Linked DNA regions of Homo sapiens: region 1 is linked to region 2. Evidence: fine-mapped expression QTL. A gene starts in region 2. The other region holds a variant in brackets. All regions are shown on one strand. Distances are between the middles of the regions. Region 1 overlaps PIK3CB (phosphatidylinositol-4,5-bisphosphate 3-kinase catalytic subunit beta). Region 2 holds the start of PIK3CB (phosphatidylinositol-4,5-bisphosphate 3-kinase catalytic subunit beta).

What was found.
Region 1: its variant is fine-mapped to the expression of PIK3CB in whole blood (TOPMed, PIP above 0.99).

What each region holds. Positions count from the first base shown.
Region 1 is chr3:138,670,633-138,675,632 of GRCh38, reverse strand. All of the region lies in intron 19 of PIK3CB (phosphatidylinositol-4,5-bisphosphate 3-kinase catalytic subunit beta), which reads left to right. Among named protein-coding and RNA genes, the nearest start is that of FAIM, 64 kb to the right of the region's middle. The variant T/C (reference allele first, on the strand shown) is at 2,690.
Region 2 is chr3:138,831,651-138,837,180 of GRCh38, reverse strand. It overlaps PIK3CB (phosphatidylinositol-4,5-bisphosphate 3-kinase catalytic subunit beta), which reads left to right and starts at 2,253. Exons shown (of 24, transcript NM_006219.3): 1 at 2,253-2,486. RefSeq lists a silencer at 2,017-2,756.

The DNA of each region.
Region 1 (5,000 bases), 160 kb after region 2:
TTCCCTGGTTTCTCATGAGAAATCAGCTGTTAATCTTATTTAAGATCCTTGTAAGTGATGAGTCACATCTCTCTTGTTCCTTTCAAGATTCTCTTTATTTTTGGTTCTTGACAGTTCGATTATAATATGCCTACTTCTATTAGAGTTTATTCTACTTTGAATTAATTGAGCATCCTGGACATATATATTATTGTTTTTCATAAAATTTGGGGAGTTTCCAGCCATAATTTTTTCATATATTTTTTCTGCCTCTCTCTCTCATCTCCTTCTTAAACGCCATTATGCATTTATTGCTTTGCTTGGTGGTGTTCTACAGGTCTCTAAGGCTCTGTTCTTTTTTCTTCATTATTTTTTCTTTTGTTTCTCTGATTGGATAATTGACCTATCCACAAGTTTGCCAATTTTTTATTATGCTCATATCTGCTGTTGTGTCTACCTGGTGAATTTTAAAATTTCAGTTATTGCCCTTTTCAACTCTGGAATTTCTGTTTGATTCATTTAAATAATATCTATCTATTGATAGTCTTCCTTTGTTGATACATCATTCTCACAGTTGTTTTGTTTTGTTTTGTTTTGAGATAGGGTCTTGTGCTGTCGCCCAGGCTGGAGTGCAGTGGCGCGGTCTCGGCTCACTGACACCTCCACCTCCCAGGTTCAAACGATTCTCCACCTCAGCCTCCCAAGTAGCTGGGATAATGACAAGCGGCCACTACAACTCCTGGCTAATTTTTGTACTTTTAGTGGAGACAGGGTTTCATCACGTTGGCCAGGCTGGTCTTGAACTCCTGACCTCAGGTGATCCACCTGCCTTGGCCTCCCAAAGTGCTGGGATTACAGGTGTGAGCCACCGCCCCCAACCTTATAGTTCTTTAAACATGGTTTCCTTTAGTTCTTTGAACATGTTTAAAATAGGGATTTTTAAATCTTTGTGTAATAAGTTGAAAATTTGATTTTCCTGAAGGACGGTTTCATTGAATGCATTTTTCCTGTATGTGTGCCATGCTTTTTTGTTTCTTTGTATGTCACATACTTTTTGCCAAAAACTGTTCACTTTAAATAATTTTACAACTCTGAAACTCAGATTCCTTCTCCCTTCAGGATTTGTCGTTGTGGCTGTTTGTTTATTTTAGTGACTTTTTTGAACTAATTATGTAAAGTTTATATTTTTTGTCATGTGTGGTCACTGATGTCTTTACTTAGTTTATTGGTCAGCTAATGGTTGACCTGATTTTCTTAAATGCCTGGAATCCACCCCTCTTCCAGTCTGCTGAGGCACTTTATGCACATGTTGGGTCATGCCTTCAACAGTCAGCCTGGTGGTTCAGAACTGTGCCTTAGCCCTAACTTTCTGCTTTCACAAAGCCTCAAAGTTAGCCATAGTTGAGAGCCAGGGCTTTGTAAGCTCTTTCCTTTGCATGTACACAGACCTGGGAATCCACAATAGTATCCATGCACACGGCCTTCTAGATTCCTACCAGTAATTTTGGAGCTTTTCAGTGCACCATATGGACATGTAATTACCTACCTTTTCCTTTTAAGCTTTCAGTTAGCTTGTTGGTTCCCCCAACTGTTATTTACCCCCAAGACAGCTACAATGTTAAACAGATGCCTCTGAGTATTTTTGAGAAACTCCCCAGGAAAAAGGCAGTTCATGCTAGGTGAGGTCTGAGTCAGGTCAAATAAACATAGTATTGTAAGTGGGATCTTCCTGGAAACTACCAGAGAGGCCAAAGAATGACAGTTCTGTGGGAATCAGGCTTTGAAGGAGCTCCAACTTCATTTTTCTTTCCTCTAGTGGCTGTCAGACATGCATTCACCATGATTGTGGGCTATTTGTTGTCAAGGCTACCACATAACTGGGAAGGGGGTTGGGACTAGGCCATGGTAAAACAAAACAGATTCACGTTGGGGTGTGTGTGTGTGTATGTGTGTGTGTACGTGTGTGTGTGTTTTAAATAAACACTTATTGGATTGCTGCAAGCCTTTGTTTTATTTTCAGAACTCTAAAATAGTTGATTTCAACAATTTTTGTCAGTATTCTTGTTGCTTTTATGGAGAAGTAGATATTCAGAGTTTGATATCATTTGGCTATAGAAGTTTGAAATCCAAATTGACTGCTTTCCTCAGAAGCCTTGAGGATATTATTCATTTGTCTTCTAGTCTCGGTTTTTAAAAAGTCTGTTCTCGGTCTGGTTATCGGTTCTTTGTAAGTAATGTCTTTTTTACACCTTAGTGCATCAAAAAGTTTCTCTTTGCCTTTGTCTGCAGTACAATCTGTGCGTGTGTATTTCTTTTATTTCTTTTTTTTATCACCATTTTCATTGTGCCTTTTCAAAGAAGTCACATCTTTTAGTTTCTGAAAACTTTGAACATTTCCTTCAGTATTGCAGTTCTCCCACTCTCATTGTCTTTTTCTGCAGCTCTAGTAGATTTATATTAAACTTTCCTGTTCTCTCCTTTATGTCTCTTAACCTTCCATATTTTCTATCTTTTCATATCTTATCATTATAACAGTTTTACTCAAGTCTCTGTGTGCTCTGGCGTTGAGACCAGGCTGAGTCTTTTCATATCTTTATGTGACTTTCTTAGTAATTTCCTATTCTTTTCCAGTTCATTATCTCTGCAACAATGTTTACTCTCCTGTATTGTATTTTTTTTCTGCTTAGACTTTCTATTCTTTTTCATCTCT[T/C]TCTCTCTCTCTCTTTTTTTTTTTTTTTTTTTTCAACGGAGTCTCACTCTGTCACCCAGGCTGGAGTGCAGTGGCACGATCTTGGCTAACTGCAATCTCCACCTCCCAGGTTCAAGCGATTCTCCTGCCTCAGCCTCCCCAGTAGCTGGGATTACAGGAACCCACCACCACGCCCGGCTAATTTTTGTATTTTTAGTAGAGGCAGGGTTTCACCATGTTGGCCAGGCTGGTCTTGAACTGTTGACCTCAGGTGATCCGCCTGGCTCCATCTCCCAGGTCAAAGTGCTGGGATTACAGGCGTGAGCCACCACGCCCAGCCTAAAGTCTCTTTCAGATTGTTCTTTTTTAGTTCTTGGGATATTACTTTTTCATTTATCTGCGTGACTTTATTCATTTCCTTATATAGTTAATAATACTCAGTTTTGAATTCATTATTGATGGATAATTATGTTTTCTGTAAAGGTCCTTTGCTCCCTGGGTTGTGAATGGATCTCTAAAAATGAGTTTGTATTTTGTTTGAGCTGTTGCCAAAGGCCTGTACACACAATCAGCCAGTTTTTATGTTAACTCCCTGCCTTCAGACCATCACACCTCATAGATAGTTTATATTTAGATCTCATAAGAGAGTGTGGGAAGGCTTGAAGTTTTGCACTTACATGAAACTTTTTTTTTTTCTTGCCTACCCAGTTTCTGGGGTAGATGGGAAACTTTCATGCCACATCATCTGATCAATGAAAAGATATTTCGAGTTCCAGTCCTCCCAGACCTCAGTTTTGTGTAGTGTGGGATATGATGAGGTTCCTCTTCAAATAATCTGATCAATCTTTTGTTCGTTAATTTATAGAACCCCCCCACTTTTTTTCTCCTTTTTCTCCTTTTTTTTCCTTTTTGCCTTTGTTAGATCCCCAGGCACACCACAGTACCAAGCGTTATCAGTACCAGCTCACATTCCTTTCCTTATTTAGAAAGAGGACTAACTTTCTAGCTCATTACAGACACCCCTTCCCCTTTCTCTCCACTTTTTCTTCATGTGCCCACCCTATCTAAAAAAATTCAGATGTTTAGCCAACCAGGATTAGTTTAGATTGTACAACCCAACCCCAGCCAATGGGGAAAGAATGCAGAGGCAGGACTTGCGTCAGGAATAAAGGCTGTCGTGCCCCTTTGTTCAGGTGTGCTCTCATGGCAACTGGCCAAGGAGGCACCCCTCTACGCAGAAGTAAAATTGCTTTGCTAAGAATCCTTTGTTCAAGTGTTCAGTTTCCTTAGGATTTTGAGTGTTATTCCTAACAGTTCTTTGTCGGGTCCAGATCCTACCTCATGGGCCTAAGTCCGTGACTGTTTTTGGTGGGCATTGAAATGTCAGCCAAGTCTAACTTCCTGAGCCACTGCTGTGAGAAATCTCTATTTTTGGAACCTAGAGGTCTTTTTTTCTTTCTTTTTTAACCACACCTATTTATAAAACCTTTGGACTTCATCATTTTTTTAATGTGATTTAGTATCTGCAACAACCTTAGTCTACAAGGTTGCTGGAAACGGTTAGACGTGTGATCGACTTTGTTCCTGCAAGATTATAATATCTCCTGATTAATTTCTTAAGTTTCAGTTATAGTCTGTTATTATGAAACATATGTGTATATATATTTTTAAAACTTGCAACCCTTGCTGTTTATTGACTGAACCAGGCATTGTATTAAGTTCTTCTCGTAAGTAATATCGTATAGGCTTACATATCTATGGGGCTATGTTATTTCTTTTTAACACATTAAAAATTAAAATGCTAGAGGTTTTAAACAAAGGTTACAGAAATATTAAATGGCAGAGCTAAATTCAAATCCAGGACTGTCAGACTCTAAATTAATGCCTGTTTATTATTTTACCAGTCTGGCTAAGTGAGAAAATAATGTGGTAAGACATGTCTAGTACTACTCTTTGTTTATCAGAGTATAATGGTGCCTAAAATACCTAAATTTCCTTTTTTTTAAAAAAAGAAATAATTTTTTATTTTTAGGTTTTTCCAAGTTACACTTTCCAGTAGTGTAAAGGTAGAAAGAGCAATTTGGGATTGTAGCTGTGATTAGAATAAAGAAAAGAGATCATAATTCATCTAAAAAGGACACTGTGGCTACTACAGGTGACAGATTTTTTTCTTTTAAATTAGGAGGAATTTCTAATGCAGCTGTGTAAAAATAGAATTAGTAGCTTTGAATAGGTAGCTAGTTTTTCAAACACTCATAAGGTATACTGCATAGATAAGAGGAATAGGTCATTAGAATAAACTGTCTGCTTGAGGACCATAAACCCAGTTGGA
Region 2 (5,530 bases):
GGCTTGGTCTCAAACTCCCGGCCTCAGGTGATCCACCCGCCTCGGCCTCCCAAAGTGTTGGGATTACAGGTGTGAGCCATCATTCCCAACTTATTGTGTTTTTTCTTTTTCAAAACTTATCACTGTGAGGTCATGCAAAACCTTCAAAATATTTATGTAGGCAAATATTTTTCTTTTTTCTATAATGGTTCTGGGCTTCCTGTCTTGCTTAAAATTTCTGCCTCATTGGCCAGTAATCACATCACTTTTGGGAGGCTGAGGCGGGCAGATCACGAAGTCAAGAGATGGAGACCATCCCGGCCAACACAGGGAAATCCCGTCTCTACTAAAAAACAAAAAATTAGCCGGGCATGGTGGTGCGCGCCTGCAGTCCCAGCTACTTGGGAGGCTGAGGCAGGGGAATCCCTTGAATTCAGGAGGCGGAGGTTGCAGTGAGCCGAGATTGTGCCACTGTACTACAGCCTGACGACAGAGCAAGACTCCGTCTCAAAAAAAGAAAAAAAAAATTAGGCGTGTGTGGTGGCGGGTGCCTGTAATCCCAGCTACTCTGGAGGTTGAGGCAAGAGAACTGCTTGAACCTGGGAGGTGGAGGTTGCCATGAGCTGAGATGGTGCCACTGCACTCCAGCCTGGGCAACAGAATGAGACTGTCTCAAAAAAAAATTTTTTTTTCCTCTTAAGTTTCTGTTTTGTAAATTTTTATATTTTTTAATTCTTCTGGATTTTTTTTTTTTTTCCTAGACAGGGTCTTGCTCTATTTCCCGGGCTGGAGTGCAGTGGTGCTACCGTGCTATCTCGACTCACACCAGCCTCGACTTCCCTCGACTTCCTGGGTTCATATTATCCTCCCACCTCAGTCTCCCAAGTAGCTGGGACAACAGATGCACATCACCACACTCACGTCATTTTTGTCAGTCTCGCCATATTGCCCAGGCTAGGTGTGAACTCCTGGGCTCAAGTGATCTGCCCACCTCGGCCTCCCAAAGTGTTGGTATTACAGCCTCTTCTGGAATTTATTTTTCAATGTTCTTGCTTTAAATCGAAAGTCAATTAAAACCAGGATCATTGGCCGGGCACGGTGGCTCATGTCTGTAATCCCAGCCCTTTGGGAGGCCGAGGCGGGCTGATCACCTGAGGTCGGGAGTTCGAGACCAGCCTGACCAACGTGGAGAAACCCCGTCTCTACTAAAAATACAAAATTAGCCAGGCGTGGTGGCGCATGCCTGTAATCCTCAGGAAGGCTGAGGCAGGAGAATCGCTTGACCGGGGGACGCAGAGTTGCGGTGAGCCAAGATCGCGCCATTGCACTCCAGCCTGGGCAACAGTAGCGAAACTCTCATTCAAAATAAGTAAATAAATAAAAAATAAAAAAACTAGGATCATTTCTCAAATAAACTATTGGTTTGTCACTTAATTGATTTGTCACGTTTGCTTTTTATTATGTTGTACTTCTAGATTTTATCCCTGACTACTCAACTATTTGTCCAGGGTAATATAGGAGCATTACGTTAGAATATACTAGCTTTGGAGTGAGTTAAAATGTTGGTTTTCAGTAAGTAAAATTTAAGTGTCCCACTAGAAAGAGGACTGTGATTTTTCGCGGTTGGGGTCAAAGGTAACAGGAAACAAGGTAGGCAAAAAGGGGTAAAGTTTAAGGCTCTGCAGACAAATGTTAGGTGTTGTTACTGCAAAATTGAACAAAGAACAAGAATCTTGGGCTTGAAAGCCTGGACTTTTCCCTAGAAACAACCATTCACAGTGTAGGGACTGAAGGGCCAGCTGTGAGGCAGCCGAGCTAGCGCCCTATCCTCACAAAGGGAGTGAAAGACGGAGACGGGTATCGGGAAAAAAATAAGTGCTGCGTCCAAGAATTTAGGAGTCAGTCCATGTCGCAGAACAGGGAGAAGGGCTGGGAAGAAAAGGCCAGCAAGGAACCTAGGAAGAGCGGAATCTCTCGGGAGGAGGTTATGGAGGCCGCAGCGGGTGATGGGTCTCTCCTGAAGGCGACTTGCCGGGGATTCCCTATTCCGCAGTCCTCTGGGAGTCGCAAAGAGAGTTAGGAAAGGCCGTGCAGCAGCGTCGCAGCCGGGCTGGCAACGGTAGAGGAATCGGCAGTGAGGCCTCTCCCCACACCCTGCCAGCCCAACTGCCGCCGCCGCCGCCGCCGCCACCGCGGGGCCCGGGATTGGCCCGAGGGCGGCGCAGGGCGGGGCGGGGGCTGCTGGGATGCAGGCCTGAGAGGCTGGCGCGCGCGCACACGGGCGCGGGTTCGGCGGCGGCGCGCGCGTGCTCTGTCGGCCTGTGCGGCGCTGCGGCGGAGCGGGCCATGGCAGTGGGGAGGGGGCGAGTGTAGTGCTGCGCGGGGCAGGCGGGAGGTGATCGAGAGAGGCAGGGATGGGGGCGCCGGAGTGGAGCGGTTGCGGCGGCCTGGGCTGCTGACTGCGCACTTGGAATAGTAGCAGGCGGCGGCGGCGGAACGCCAGGCAGGTGAGTGCGGCGGCCGGGACCCGGATGCGGCGCGGCTGAGGGGCGGCTGGGTCGCGGCGCCGGCTGCGGTGCCCCCGGGCGTGCTGGCGGTGCGTTCTAGCTTGCCGCTACCTGCGGCGCTGGCGACTCTTGTGGTTGCACCGCGCTTCCTGCCAGCTTGGAGGATAACCGCCTACCGGCCGGTGGGGGCGTCTGGCTTGGTTGCGGCCCGCCCTGGGCTCTCCAAGGTGAGTGGCGCCCCCCGGCCCCTGGGCGGCAGAGACGCTGCCGGGCGTCCCGGGTCACTGTCGCTTTGGGTCCCGTTCCTGAGGGGCGTTTCTGTGGAGAGACGGCGTACTCGCGCCCCGCGTCTATGCGGACACCTCCGGAACTTCCCGACCCTCAGGTGCCTTTTTGCGCAGAAGTGTATTTCAGAGGCGTGGACCCAGGGTTATTAGGTTATGGACATGTTTTCGAATCCCAACGCCGCTGCTGACCAGTCCTGGGGCCTTGGGCCAAAATATCCTGATGTGTTAAATGGAAATAATAATACATACACCATAAGGTTGTTGTGAGGTTAGGCATAACTGAACAAGTGCTAAGTAAATGATACCCCTGCTGCAGCATCTCGTGTTAGCTATTGCTAATTCCTGGCTGCTGGCGTGCGTTTGGGGGCACATTTATTTCCGATCTGCTCTGGTGTTGCAGTAACCGATACTGGAGTTGCTTAATATTGGAGCCTGTTAACCTCGCAGTGGCCAAAATAGAATCCTATAGTCCCTTACTAGAATCCTGCAGTCTCTTCCCGCAGGGCTGAATTGGAACCCTGTCTCAGGTACTGAGTGGGAATTACTGCTGAAATGAAACCGAGCAAATTCGGGATTCGCTTAGGATGAAAGATGGTGGGACGTAAACTTGAAGTGCTTTGCTGTTTCATCTCAAGTGACACTTGAACTCTGCCACTTGTTACAGAGTTATAAACACACGAAGAGTATGGAAACAGACTCTTTTTTCTGCATTGCTACATCCAAAGGGAGTGACAAGTGCTTTTGTAAACATCATTGTGGGCAGTGTGACTGTCTGGTGAAGTCATGATAATTAAATGAGTACTTATTTTGAAGCACTGAATGGAAGTTTGGAGATATGATTCGTAATAAAATTGTCTCCAACGAGTCAGAGGTCTCAGCAGTTCATTAATCATTTGGGGATTTTTATGCTACATTGTAAGATTTTATGGTAAAAGCAGAACTGTTTAAGTCATAATAATGTAGCACAGGAAAGGGTGGTCAGATAAGGATCTTAACCCAGTTTCAGAATGCAGGTATGGAAGAAAGTAAAGTCTTTTTTCTGACCAGGTGCGTTGGCTCACGCCTGTAATCCCAGCACTTTGGGAGGCCGAGGCGGGCGGATCAATTGATTCCAGGAGTTCGACACCAGCCCAAGCAACATGGTGAAACCCCGTCTCTACCAAAAACACAAAAATTAGCAGGGCGTGGTGGCGGGCGCTTGTAATCCCAGCTACTTGGGAGGCTGAGGCAGGAGAATCCCTTGAACCCGGGAGGCGGAGGTTGCAGTGAGCCGAGATGGCACCACTGGACTCCAGCCTGGGCAACAGAGGGATACCCTGTCTCAAAAAGAAAAAAAAAAAATCTTTTTGAGACCGAATCTTGCTTCTTTTTTAAAAAAAAATTATTGTTGTTTTTTGAGGCAGGGTCTCGGTCTGTCGCCCAGGCTGGAGTGCAATGTCGCCATCTTGGCTCACTGCAACCTCCGCCTCCTGGGTTCAAGCGATCCTCCTGCCTCAGGCTCCCTAGTGGCTGAGACTACAGGGGCGTGCCACCACGCCTGGCCAATCTTTCAATTTTGTTTTTTTTTTTTTTTTTTTGAGACGGAGTTTCGCTTTTGTTGTCCAGGCTGGAGTGCAATGACGCGATCTCCAGCTCACCGCAACCTCCGCCTCCCGGGTTCAAGCGATTCTCCTGCCATAGCCTCCCGAGTAGTTGGGATTACAGGCATGTGCCACCACACGCGGCTAATTTTGTACTTTTTTTGGTAGAGACGGGGTTTCTCCATGTTGGTCAGGGTGGTCTCGGACTCCCAACCTCAGGTATCCGCCCGCCTCGGCCTCCCAAACTGCTGGGATTACAGGAGGAAGCCACCGCGCCCGGCCCAATCTTTGTATTTTTGGTAGAGAGGTGGTTTTGCCATGTTGGCCAGGCTGGTCTTGATCTCCTGGGCTCAAATGATCCGCCAGCCTGGGCCTCCCAAAATGCTGGGATTACAGGCATGAACCACCGCGACCGGCCGAAAGTAAAAATCTTAAAGGTTTAAACTGGAATTGTATTCACTAAAGCCAAAATGACTTAAGAAGCAAAAATCTAATTTACACCCCTGATTCACACCCTGAGTCCACCACCTTCGGAGTGTTTTTTAGAAGTGTTGAAAATCAAGTCGGGTTTTGATTTGTCATTTTGCACCTCTTGCCTATCTTTCTTGGTGTTCTTAAAGACTCATCCATAAAGGCTTTTGCTTCAACTTGCTTTGTGAATGTCAGCCAACTATATGGAAAAAAGTGAAAAATGAACACTGTAGTCTAAATTATGTTCTTTCTTGAGGTTTTCCCAGTTGTCTAGCTTAGACTGTTGAACTCAACAGTAGAACTACTGCTAGCCACTGTGAAAAGGCTGGGAGTCAGAAGTCACCTCTTGGTTTTAGGCCTCAACCTGGGTAAAAACAGCTGGGGCTATGGGGATGTTACCCAGTCTTATGGGCCTCTGTTTTGTTTGTTTGTTTGTTTTGAGATGGAGTCTCTCTCTGTCGCCAGGCTGGAGTGCAATGGCACGATCTCTGCTCACTGTGACCTCCCGGGTTCAAGCGATTCTCCTGCCTCAGCCTCCAAATTAGTTGGGACTACAGGTGCACACCACCATGCCCCGCTAATTTTTGTATTTTTAGTAAACATGGGGTTTCACCATATTGGCCAGGATGGTCTCAGTCTTTTGACCTCGTGTTCCTCCCGCCTTGGCCTCCCAAAGTGCTGGGATTACAGGCGTCAGCCACTGTGC